Regions from separate parts of the Homo sapiens genome. Here all the other regions are linked to region 1. Evidence: fine-mapped QTL for protein levels in blood plasma. A gene starts in region 1. Each other region holds a variant in brackets. All regions are shown on one strand. Distances are between the middles of the regions. Region 1 holds the start of TSPAN8 (tetraspanin 8). Region 2 overlaps TSPAN8 (tetraspanin 8). Region 3 has its middle 37 kb from the start of TSPAN8.

The links. PIP is the posterior inclusion probability: the model's chance that the variant is causal. Protein levels are from antibody-based Olink assays in UK Biobank. Linkage for the fine-mapping came from a reference panel and not from the study's own genotypes, which makes the PIPs less certain.
Region 2: its variant is fine-mapped to the plasma level of the TSPAN8 protein (UK Biobank, PIP 0.97).
Region 3: its variant is fine-mapped to the plasma level of the TSPAN8 protein (UK Biobank, PIP 0.90).

Annotation. Positions count from the first base shown.
Region 1 is chr12:71,156,322-71,160,563 of GRCh38, reverse strand. TSPAN8 (tetraspanin 8) reads left to right here and starts at 2,565. Exons shown (of 9, transcript NM_004616.3): 1 at 2,565-2,634; 2 at 2,777-2,945. The coding sequence starts at 2,886.
Region 2 is chr12:71,141,709-71,145,950 of GRCh38, reverse strand. TSPAN8 (tetraspanin 8) reads left to right here. Exons shown (of 9, transcript NM_004616.3): 3 at 1,738-1,800. Among named protein-coding and RNA genes, the nearest start is that of TSPAN8, 14 kb to the left of the region's middle. The variant A/G (reference allele first, on the strand shown) is at 2,402.
Region 3 is chr12:71,119,219-71,123,460 of GRCh38, reverse strand. No RefSeq gene overlaps it. Among named protein-coding and RNA genes, the nearest start is that of TSPAN8, 37 kb to the left of the region's middle. The variant G/C (reference allele first, on the strand shown) is at 1,809.

The sequences.
Region 1 (4,242 bases):
ATATTCATTTCAGAATTGCTATATATCACCTCCTTGAATATTAGAAAGTTGAAGGCTCTGACAAGTCCTGAAATTAATAAACTGTTTTTCTTGACCTAATAGATTTTTTAAAGGCAGAGGTAGCATATTGGTAGTTCCCTAGAGAACCTAATGAGGAAATCACTAGTTGAACTTTCTGAGGAGCTTGGCTGCCATTGCAAATCTCTGTAGCTCTAATGCCAGCTACTGTAGGTACAGAGGTGAATAGGGTAAGATTTCTGCTTTTCAGGCATATAGAATCAAATGTGGGGGAGAGACACAAATAAATGTGATATAGTGGCAATTGTAGATTTAAGGTCTGTTCAAATAATAATGGACTTGAGGACTGAGAAGCAAGTAAATCTGCCCAGAGTGGGGGCAGAGGATGAGGAAGGGAAGGCTCCACAGGGATGTTGCAATAGAGAAGGTGGGAAAGGATATTCCAGGCAGAAGGAACAAGGCATAAAATCCAAAGGTGTGTTCTAGGCCTGGGAAATAATTCTGTGGTTATGGAGCCTAGAAGTGGAGGCTGCCTAGGAAGAAAGGGGAGGGACAAAATTCTGGAAAGTGGGTGGAGGACTTGTTTGCTGTGTGCTGTAAATGCTACTTTAAGGAATCTGAACTTTATCTTGTAGGTAAAAGGAAAATATCCTTAGATTGGGTTTTCATCATTATCATTACCTAATCAATAAGTATTTCTCAAAAAGAATTTTAAAGTGCTAAGGCAGAGAGGAACTGGGAGAAACTGCCAGGGAAATTAATTCTCATTCTATTGACACAGCTCAAGTAAGAAATGATAAAGGACTGAATAATGAAATGCAAAAGGATGAGATGGAAGAAATAGTTTTGACAGTAATTTAGGAGCTACACAGACCAGTAAGAGTGATTGGATGGAAAGAAAGAGAAATACAAAATATCTGTACAAATTCAGCCTGGGAGAGTGTTGTGTGATTATAACATTAATAGGAATAGGAATTTCCAGGAGTGAACTGTTTCATATAGGTTTTGAATTAGACTAGGGGTTCTATTACACAGTCATTCTCCTGTACAAACACATCCATTGATTTTTGTGTTACAGAGTTCAAGAGTGATTCAACTAAAGACTACACAGTATTCTTTTTAAGGATGTTCAGCATCCACCAAAATATCTATTTCAAACTAAAATTTGGTAGTATTCAATACATTCTTTTCAACAAAGCAGCATTTAAATCTGTAATTTTTTTTTAATTTTAGCCTCTGATAAATAATCATTTCTGGGACTATGAATCAATTTTGGTTTTCATTCAATCTGAAATTATTCTTTCAGCCTTGGATTATTCTATATACAAAATATCTCAATAGAAGGTTGTGAAACTATCCATTTTCTAGTAGGAAAGAGAACACAAACAATTTTAGTGATGATTTATATATTAAGCCATTATTTTTGGAATTAATCCTAAATTTGGCCTTTAACGCTATATATTATTGTTGATAATGCATTAAAATATATTGTATTTGTAGTCAGGGAGTAGAATTGTTTCAAAAACATTGTATGCCAGTGAAAATTAGAAATAATATTTTTCTTTTGTAAGGAGTTCATGCTTGCTTATCGTGTAAAACTTAGCAAAGATTCTAAAGAATAATTTTCTCAACAACCTTTTAAAGTAGAGGGTTCTTTTATTTAGGGGGAGAAGAACTCCCTTTGAGAGGCAGGATGTGGAAACTAACATGACCCAGGCTGTTTACACAAAGCAGTCCACACCTCCCTGATGATGTCGGAGCATTTTGCCTTTACCTGAGACAGCTGCCTTCTATTAGCACTAGAAACAAATAGTAAAATCTATGGTCACTGATCCATGACCACCTTCCCATTTTGAATTTTTTTGTCCGGGAGGACCTGGAATCCAGAAACTGAGTTGGTGGAGAACAGCTGTTGCTAGATACAATTTATCAGAGGAAGGAAATTACAGTGTCCACCTTAAAAACAAACCAAGCTATCAGAATGACTACGCATTATAAAATGAAAACAATGTTGCAGTCAGTGCCACTTTATGATTTCTTTCCCTTTGTATCATAAAGAAATAAAGATAAAAAGCAAATGGTCTTATCATGATAGGCAAGGCTGCCTCTCCCTCTGCAATTTCTGTGGTGTATTTACGGCAGCTCTGGAATTCTTTTGAAATAAATTTAGATGTTTTGGAGGGCAGATACATGTAATGGTTATTTTACTATTCTAGGTTTAATGATAACAGGTTGCTATGTCTAAGCTTTGATATTTTGCAGATTTCTAAATGCATTTTATTGCATTTAGAAGGAATTTTGTAGTATTGAGAAAATGCAATGCAAAAATGAGTAGAGATACAATGTCCATTTAACTCAGAACAAAACAACCTTATTTCCCCATAGTTGAAATGGAGGGCGGGGAAGTCAGGCAGTGGTTTCTGAAAGCCAAGAACTTAGTAGCACTGTGCCATTCTCTTGCCTGATCCAGTGCCATTCCCTTCACTTGATATCTGTTTACTTTAGAGGAGGCAGTTTTTGAGAAAGGATCATAAATATCCTGGCCCAGTGCCCCAGGAGCTATGACAAGCAAAGGAACATACTTGCCTGGAGATAGCCTTTGCGATATTTAAATGTGTGAGTTAATAGCCTTTGAGATATTTAAATGTGTGGGTTAATAGCCTTTGCGATATTTAAATGTGTGGGTTAATTTTTTTATCCAGTTTAATAACTTTTTATTCCTCCCTCTACTTCTTTGCTTTCTCTTTCTGCTCTGAAGCCGTGGATACAGAAATCTCTGCAGGCAAGTTGCTCCAGAGCATATTGCAGGACAAGCCTGTAACGAATAGTTAAATTCACGGCATCTGGATTCCTAATCCTTTTCCGAAATGGCAGGTGTGAGTGCCTGTATAAAATATTCTATGTTTACCTTCAACTTCTTGTTCTGGGTAAGTGTTTTCCTTTTAATTATCAATTTTATGCAAGAAAGGGGATCTTGATATAAATATCATAAACAAGAACAGACTGTACACTAGAGAAATAAGAGAAGGGGGAAAATGTATTTTCCATGTACTTGTTTGGATTTGTTTGTTCTTTCTTTGGTTATTTCAGTAATTGAAAATGAGCCAAGGACTCAAAAAAGTGCACTTCAGAATGTGAGGATAAACATTTCATAAATGTTTTCATATTGCTGCAAAAAAAAATCACAGAGGAACACAAATGCCCCTTAATTAAAGGACAATTTTCCTTAGTTGTATATCAAGCAGGCCTCCCTAATTTAAGGACTCTGTGGTAAAAACATGGTCTGATTCCATCCGGAGCCCGGGTCCTGATTCCCGCCCTTCACTTCTGGGTTTGAACAGGTGAATCGCAGGGTGTGGGACAATAAAGATCATTTTCAGAGCCTCAAAGACAAAAAAAATGGGTCATGAAAAACTTGAGGGGGAAATGATAAAATTCCTAAATCATAAGAAAATCAAACTAAGACCGTGGATATATATATGTATTGGCATTTTAAAGTCAGTATTTTGATGTGTCATCACCCTACCTTTTAATTGACAGGATTTGTATTTTAGCAATTTGTTATGTTTCTCTTGAAAGTCCATTGACATAGACATAACCAACAAATTGATAACTGATATCTATCAATAGATAATGGAAAAACAAGGTATGAAAAGAGCAGGCTGGGATGTTGGGACATTGACCTTATCATTTTTAGCATATATGGTACAATTAAAGATTGTTTAAATGTCAATCAGTGGAAATAGCACAAAGTATTTAAATGAAAAAAGTATTTTGTATACTGGATTAAAAGCTACCTTATCCACTCCAAGGATGAAAGAACTCTGGTTTTGTTTTTGTACCTGATCTTTAGTAAACAGACATCTCATACCTATGTGTTGCTATATTTCTGTTCTATTAAAATAATGATGAACTTAATTAAACTTAACTACATGAATACAGCTTTATTGTATAGACTGATTTTCCATTCAATGATCAGTAGTGCTAATGAGTACAAATGGATATATTGGTGACTTTTAAATAAGTAAGTAAATATTTAAAAAAGTAAAATAAAGAAGGCAAAAAAAATGGGCTGCTGTTTTTAGGTTAAAAAAATGGGCTGCTTTTGCAAATATTTAATGTAGCTCATGCTACATATATGCCAGTTTTTTAGTTAGTTCTGATACATTTCTTCCCTTGAGATACTTAAATTGATTAAACATTGGGAGCAGGTTATACAAAAAA
Region 2 (4,242 bases), 15 kb after region 1:
TTCTTACTAAGCTCTTACTAAGAATTCTTAAAGTTTTTTCGTTGATAGTTTAACAAATATCAGGAAAGAATGCTACTCATAATAGCTACAAGGTTCATTAGTTACAGATGAAGGCCAGAATGACTATTAAGCCAATCATTATGAATCTGCTTGTGAAAAGAGAAGAAAACGAAAGAAGATAATCAGTGAACAAACTAAACAACAAACAAAAAATTCAGTTGGTATGAAATTACTGAAAATCCCAGAGGGTCTCATTATCATTTGACATAAATTATCACTCACAAACTGTTTAACAAAGGACTGCTAAAATGAGCATTTGTCTTTGTTTGCAAATGAAATTAGAATTTTGTGAAAGGATGCTATAAATCTCAGGGTTAGAGAAGTAAGGAAAGTTTTCAAACACGAAAGCTGTGTTTTTTAATCATTTGTATTTTATGGTGTGTGTGTGTCTATGTGTGTGTATGAGATAATTGCATAGGTTATTTGGTGGTTAAAGAGCTTTGGTTTTTAATTGCATTAGTTATTTTGTAGGAGCTGAAGTATGTTGTAAGGGCAGATTGGTTAGGAATTGCTCCGGGTTTTCATGATGTAATAATTAGCGCCCAGGATTCCAATTTCTCCATTCAAAATGAGAGGTTTAGACCTAGATGATTTTCAAGGTCTTTTAGGGAGCACAGAGTCTATGGTTACTCAACTACTCATTGTGCTTCCTATTCCTTAACAGAGCCCTTGACTCTATTTCCCCTGCAAACTCAATGAGAAGCCATTAAAAGTGCTGTCTTGGGGTTCTAGGCGTATGTCTCAACCATGCACGAAAGCAATGATGCTCCAAGGACATTTGTCTGTCAGAGCACAGCAAGGTCAGAATTGTCTACTAAGTCCCCCAAGGCCTGCTGTGTCTGGTATGTTACCAGACACAGCTCTTAACATCTCTATCTAATAATAGATCTTTGATTTTTGTTTTTGAAGCCACAATGCATAACTTTTTTTTTTAAACCCTGAATGACAAGAGTTTTCCTTACACTAAAGTAAAATGTGTTTTACATTTTATTGTGTTGGCATTGGTCCAAATTAAATAATCTGGTAAAATCATTAAAGGAATTTAAGACTTCAAGTTCTGTCTTTCATTGTTCCTTCTCTGTGAGTAAACTTTACCACCTAAAAGAGCTTGTTTTTAAGAGAGTTTATTTGGGTTCAAAAAGTGTTGATTATTATATAGCCTTGTTGCTTAACTGCACATCTTGTCGTATGTTTTACTTTTTCCCCCTCTATCCCAACATCTCCCTTCCTGTCGAATCTTAAATGAATGGTGACTATTCCGTCATTCCCTTTTTTCCTGGTCCAACATAGCTTCTCACAAACAAGCCCAGAGGCATGATAAGGATATTTTATCTTTAAACTGTTGTGACTTTTCTTTTGTATGCTAAAATCTAGCAGAAACACAGGGCTAGAGTTACATGGAAAAATAATCTTTCCAGGCCTAATGGAAATAACTTCTTGTCCATAGAGCTGTGAGTGAGTTGTGGATGAGAAATAGAATTATTCTCATCAAACTTACACATTGCAATTTAACATTTCAACAATGATCTGTATATGAATATGCCTCATTTATGTCTTCCAGGTTGTGATAGTATAGTCGATGATGAACTACTGTCACCGGATAGATAGGAGGGTGTGGAAATAGAGTTTCATATGATCCTAATTGTATTCTTTTTGTTTGTTTGTTTTTTTCTGCAGCTATGTGGTATCTTGATCCTAGCATTAGCAATATGGGTACGAGTAAGCAATGACTCTCAAGCAGTAAGTATGCAAAAACAAGTCACCCTTTCCCCAATGTAGTTTATTTCATTTATAATAATGAAAGTTATAACAATAATAGTAATAAACATGTCTAAAACATTTTTCTTAACTGCTTCATGTAATCACTTGTGCTGTTATGTGATTTTATAATTCAGTTCAATCAATTAAAATTACTATGTGGCTGGCACTGTGCTAGATGTGGAAAAATCTTTCTAGAGAATGGAGGAGGTGTTATTCAAAAATTCAAAAAAATTCAGTGAGATGCAGGTGGGAAGGGGCCAAAGTGGAAATTTTCCTCCTTTACTATTTGTTTAAGGCCTATATTGAGGATATAGGCCACCTCTCCTTCTCACCAAGAAGAATAATTTTTATAGTAGAAGGTTTTGACAATAATTTAGTTGATCCCAATGTGGTTGGTCCAAAAGGAAAGAAAATGAGAAGTTTTCTTGGAGAAGAATAATTTGAATCTGTATTTTAAAGGCAACAAGGTACAAGGGTACTTGTTATTTACCTGTGGCAACTGGCAGTGAAGGTAACCACTTGCCAGTAGTGGCTAATCTAACTTGGTGAAACTCAGTAATTCTCTGGGGATGTCCAGATT[A/G]TTGCTATATGTATAAGATGAACATGACCCATTTTCCTCCCCCACACACCATTCCGTGCCCAGTGCCAAAGCTCTTACCCAGATCTACAGGTCTGGAGGAAGTGTATTTCGTATGGTTAATTCTGGCTCCAGCTATTGGACCCCATACGTGTGGTATCTGTTCCATGCCACAGTATCACAAATGTGGAAAGGGTTGGGGGAAGAGGGAGGGGCGAGTGTGCGGGGATTGTTCTGTCAGTTTTACGGAACATAATACCACCCTGGCACCATTTCCTGGCTCCCGTGCTTTTATTCTTTTCTCTCCCTTCTTCTATTCTGGGGCTCCATCCCCACAAATTATTATTCTAACACATTCAGAGCCATTAATTTGTTCTTTGTTTTCTGGGCTCTTGCCACTAAAGGATCACCTCTTCTACTGCTAGAGCCTTTTTAAGGTATTTGCCCACATAAAGAGAGTTTCTCCTCTCTGAGAAGAATTTTGATTCCAAGTTGATAATTACTGAGAGATTTATTAAGCCAGCAATTAAGACAATGCATTTTCTACTAAAACGTATTTCACCATGGTGCAGCTAAATGCCTTTGAACACAGCCTAGTGGAAAGGAAGATGAAAAGGGAATTAATGTCTGCTCTGTTTTCTTCGCTGCAGTGGGTGGCTTTTCTGAAAATTTCTTTCTCACTCTATCTCTGTTTTTTTTTTTTTTGTTTTTTTCCTCTCTCTCTCTCCTGTTGTTCTTTTCCTTTTAAAATTGCTTTCTGCCCTTAGGGAGCCCAGAGGATCACAGTGGCAATTAGCGGCTTCCACATTCTGTGCCTCACCATGGTGAAGAAATTGGGTGGGAGATGGGTGTGGCAGCTTTTTAGTAACATCCTAGTCCATCAGGATTTCACTTATTGTTTTCTACTGATAACCATAACTGTGACTTCCTGATGGCCTGGAGCTCTGGTGTGTGAGCCCAAGAAGTGCATTTGAAGATGTGCAGAATTACCATCCTGTAGAATCTGAAGTCTGACTTTGGGACTCATAATTAAGCACAGAGATTAACAGTCACCTACTTACAGGGTGCTGTGGCCTCTTCAAGATGTGTGTGTAGCCTGCAATTTATTTTATTTTAATTTTACTTCCTGTTGGTATTTTCTTTCCCTCCCAGTGCTTCTGGTAAACAAATTTGGTGTTTAGTCTGTTAAAAAATTGCACATATTGAATGTATTAAAGGGGAACTGTTGTCCTTGAGAGGGTGCTCCTCCACATCTGGGGATAAGAATGAATTAATAGAGCTAGACAGCATCTTTAGTTACGTTTTGACTCACGCTTCATCAGCCTCTCACACTGAACAAAAGCCAGTGTCTGCCAGGACAACATTAACCAGCTTGACTTATATAAAATTGGCTTGGTTTATATTTTTCTCAAGCCAGTGACAAAGAATCAAGACAGAGCAAAGAGCTGAATTTTTTGTTAGTGAAAAAACAGAGGTAGCTGTTTTGGAAGGAAAAACATGAGCATAAACACAGAAAAGAAGGATGTCAGGGAAATGACAGAACTTTCTGCTGAAGTGTCTCATGAAGACCCTTTTTTCTACCTCAGGATAAACTTAGCACCATGAGGAAAAGCACATGAGCAGCCATCCTTGTCCCAGGAGGTCCCTTCTGATCCAAAGAGGATTCCTGAGTCCTCATCTTTCAGGACCAGCTGAATTTCTCTGTCTTTAGAAATTCTCCCCTTGTCCTAAGACACACAGGGACACAGTGTTCATTCAAGACAGCTTTTCAAACCCTGCTGTTCCTCCCCTGGTGCAAACATCTGAACTCAGATTTCCACTTCATTCTTGAATAAGAATAACCA
Region 3 (4,242 bases), 37 kb after region 1:
CACATCCTCTCCAGCACCTGTTGTTTCCTGACTTTTTAATGATTGCCATTCTAACTGGTGTGAGATGGTATCTCATTGTGGTTTTGATTTGCATTTCTCTGATGGCCAGTGATGATGAGCATTTTTTCATGTGTTTTTTGGCTGCGTAAATGTCTTCATTTGAGAAGTGTCTGTTCATGTCCTTCGCCCACTTTTTGATGGGGTTGTTTGTTTTTTTCTTGTAAATTTGTTTGAGTTCATTGTAGATTCTGGATATTAGCCCTTTGTCAGATGAGTAGGTTGCGAAAATTTTCTCCCATTTTGTAGGTTGCCTGTTCACTCTGATGGTAGTTTCTTTTGCTGTGCAGAAGCTCTTTAGTCTAATTAGATCCCATTTGTCAATTTTGTCTTTTGTTGCCATTGCTTTTGGTGTTTTGGACATGAAGTCCTTGCCCATGCCTATGTCCTGAATGGTACTGCCTAGGTTTTCTTCTAGGGTTTTTATGGTTTTAGGTCTAATGTTTAAGTCTTTAATCCATCTTGAATTGATTTTTGTATAAGGTGTAAGGAAGGGATCCAGTTTCAGCTTTCTACATATGGCTAGCCAGTTTTCCCAGCACCATTTATTAAATAGGGAATCCTTTCCCCATTGCTTGTTTTTCTCAGGTTCGTCAAAGATCAGATAGTTGTAGATATGCGGCGTTATTTCTGAGGGCTCTGTTCTGTTCCATTGATCTATATCTCTGTTTTGGTACCAGTACCATGCTGTTTTGGTTACTGTAGGCTTGTAGTATAGTTTGAAGTCAGGTAGTGTGATGCCTCCAGCTTTGTTCTTTTGGCTTAGGATTGCCTTGGCGATGCGGGCTCTTTTTTGGTTCCATATGAACTTTAAAGTAGTTTTTTCCAATTCTGTGAAGAAAGTCATTGGTAGCTTGATGGGGATGGCATTGAATCTGTAAATTACCTTGGGCAGTATGGCCATTTTCATGATATTGATTCTTCCTACCCATGAGCATGGAATGTTCTTCCATTTGTTTGTATCCTTTTTTATTTCCTCGAGCAGTGGTTTGTAGTTCTCCTTGAAGAGGTCCTTCACATCCCTTGTAAGGTGGATTCCTAGGTATTTTATTTTCTTTGAAGCAATTGTGAATGGGAGTTCACTCATGATTTGGCTCTCTGTTTGTCTGTTGTTGGTGTATAAGAATGCTTGTGATTTTTGTACATTGATTTTGTATCCTGAGACTTTGCTGAAGTTGCTTATCAACTTAAGGAGATTTTGGGCTGAGACAATGGGGTTTTCTAGATATACAGTCATGTCGTCTGCAAACAGGGACAATTTGACTTCCTCTTTTCCTAATTGAATACACTTTATTTCCTTCTCCTGCCTAATTGCCCTGGCCAGAACTTCCAACACTATGTTGAATAGGAGTGGTGAGAGAGGGCATCCCTGTCTTGTGCCAGTTTTCAAAGGGAATGCTTCCAGTTTTTGCCCATTCAGTATGATATTGGCTGTGGGTTTGTCATAGATAGCTCTTATTATTTTGAAATACATCCCATCAATACCTAATTTATTGAGAGTTTTTATCATGAAGGGTTGTTGAATTTTGTCAAAGTCTTTTTCTGCATCTATTGAGATAATCATGTGGTTTTTGTCTTTGGCTCTGTTTATATGCTGGATTACATTTATTGATTTGCGTATATTAAACCAGCCTTGCATCCCAGGGATGAAGCCCACTTGATCATGGTGGATAAGCTTTTTGATGTGCTGCTGGATTCGTTTTGCCAGTATTTTATTGAGGATTTTTGCAACAATGTTCGTCAAGGATATT[G/C]GTCTAAAATTCTCTTTTTTGGTTGTGTCTCTGCCCGGCTTTGGTATCAGAATGATGCTGGCCTCATAAAATGAGTTAGGGAGGACTCCCTCTTTTTCTATTGATTGGAATAGTTTCAGAAGGAATGGTACCAGTTCCTCCTTGTACCTCTGGTAGAATTCGGCTGTGAATCCATCTGGTCCTGGACTCTTTTTGGTTGGTAAACTATTGATTATTGCCACAATTTTCAGCTCCTGTTATTGGTCTATTCAGAGATTCAACTTCTTCCTGGTTTAGTCTTGGGAGAGTGTATGTGTCGAGGAATTTATCCATTTCTTCTAGATTTTCTAGTTTATTTGCATAGAGGTGTTTGTAGTATTCTCTGATGATAGTTTGTATTTCTGTGGGATTGGTGGTGATACCCCTTTATCATTTTTTATTGTGTCTATTTGATTCTTCTCTCTTTTTTTCTTTATTAGTCTTGCTAGCAGTCTATCAATTTTGTTGATCCTTTCAAAAAACCAGCTCCTGGATTCATTAATTTTTTGAAGGGTTTTTTGTGTCTCTATTTCCTTCAGTTCTGCTCTGATTTTAGTTATTTCTTGCTTTCTGCTAGCTTTTGAATGTGTTTGCTCTTGCTTTTCTAGTTCTTTTAATTGTGATATTAGGGTGTCAATTTTGGATCTTTCCTGCTTTCTCTTGTGGGCATTTAGTGCTATAAATTTCCCTCTACACACTGCTTTGAATGCGTCCCAGAGATTCTGGTATGTTGTGTCTTTGTTCTCGTTGGTTTCAAAGAACATCTTCATTTCTGCCTTCATTTCGTTATGTATCCAGTAGTCATTCAGGAGCAGGTTGTTCAGTTTCCATGTAGTTGAGTGGTTTTGAGTGAGATTCTTAATCCTGAGTTCTAGTTTGATTGCACTGTGGTCTGAGAGATAGTTTGTTATCATCTCTGTTCTTTTACATTTGCTGAGGAGAGCTTTACTTCCAAGTATGTGGTCAATTTTGGAATAGGTGTGGTGTGGTGCTGAAAAAAATGTATATTCTGTTGATTTGGGATGGAGAGTTCTTTAGATGTCTATTAGGACTGCTTGGTGCAGAGCTGAGTTCAATTCCTGGGTATCCTTGCTGACTTTCTGTCTCGTTGATCTGTCTAATGTTGACAGTGGGGTGTTAAAGTCTCCCATTATTAATGTGTGGGAGTCTAAGTCTCTTTGTAGGTCACTCAGGACTTGCTTTATGAATCTGGGTGCTCCTGTATTGGGTGCATATATATTTAGGATAGTTAGCTCTTCTTGTTGAATTGATCCCTTTACCATTATGTAAGGGCCTTCTTTGTCTCTTTTGATCTTTGTTGGTTTAAAGTCTGTTTTATCAGAGACTTGGATTGCAACCCCTGCCTTTTTTTGTTTTCCATTTTCTTGGTAGATCTTCCTCCATCCTTTTATTTTGAGCCTGTGTGGGTCTCTGCATGTGAGATGGGTTTCCTGAATACAGCACACTGATGGGTCTTGACTCTATCCAATTTGCCAGTCTGTGTCTTTTAATTGGAGCATTTAGTCCATTTACATGTAAAGTTAATATTGTTATGTGTGAATTTGATCCTGTCATTATGATGTTAGCTGGTTATTTTGCTTGTTAGTTGATGCAGTTTCTTCCTAGTCTCGATGGTCTTTACATTTTGGCATGATTTTGCAGCGGCTGGTACCGGTTGTTCCTTTCCATGTTTAGTGCTTCCTTCAGGAGCTCTTTTAGGGCAGGCCTGGTGGTGACAAAATCTCTCAGCATTTGCTTGTCTGTAAAGAATTTTATTTCTCCTTCACTTATGAAGCTTAGTTTGGCTGGATATGAAATTCTGGGTTGAAAATTCTTTTCTTTAAGAATGTTGAATATTGGCCCCCACTCTCTTCTGGCTTGTAGGGTTTCTGCCAAGAGATCCGCTGTTAGTCTGATGGGCTTCCCTTTGAGGGTAGCCTGACCTTTCTCTCTGGCTGCCCTTAACATTTTTTCCTTCATTTCAACTTTGGTGAATCTGACAATTATGTGTCTTGGAGTTGCTCTTCTCGAGGAGTATCTTTGTGGCGTTCTCTGTATTTCCTGAATCTGAACGTTGGCCTGCCTTGCTAGATTGGGGAAGTTCTCCTGGATAATATCCTGCAGAGTGTTTTCCAACTTGGTTCCATTCTCCCCATCACTTTCAGGTACACCAATCAGACGTAGATTTGGTCTTTTCACATAGTCCCATATTTCTTGGAGGCTTTGCTCATTTCTTTTTATTCTTTTTTCTCTAAACTTCCCTTCTCGCTTCATTTCATTCATTTCATCTTCCATTGCTGATACCCTTTCTTCCAGTTGATCGCATCGGCTCCTGAGGCTTCTGCATTCTTCACGTAGTTCTCGAGCCTTGGTTTTCAGCTCCATCAGCTCCTTTAAGCACTTCTCTGTATTGGTT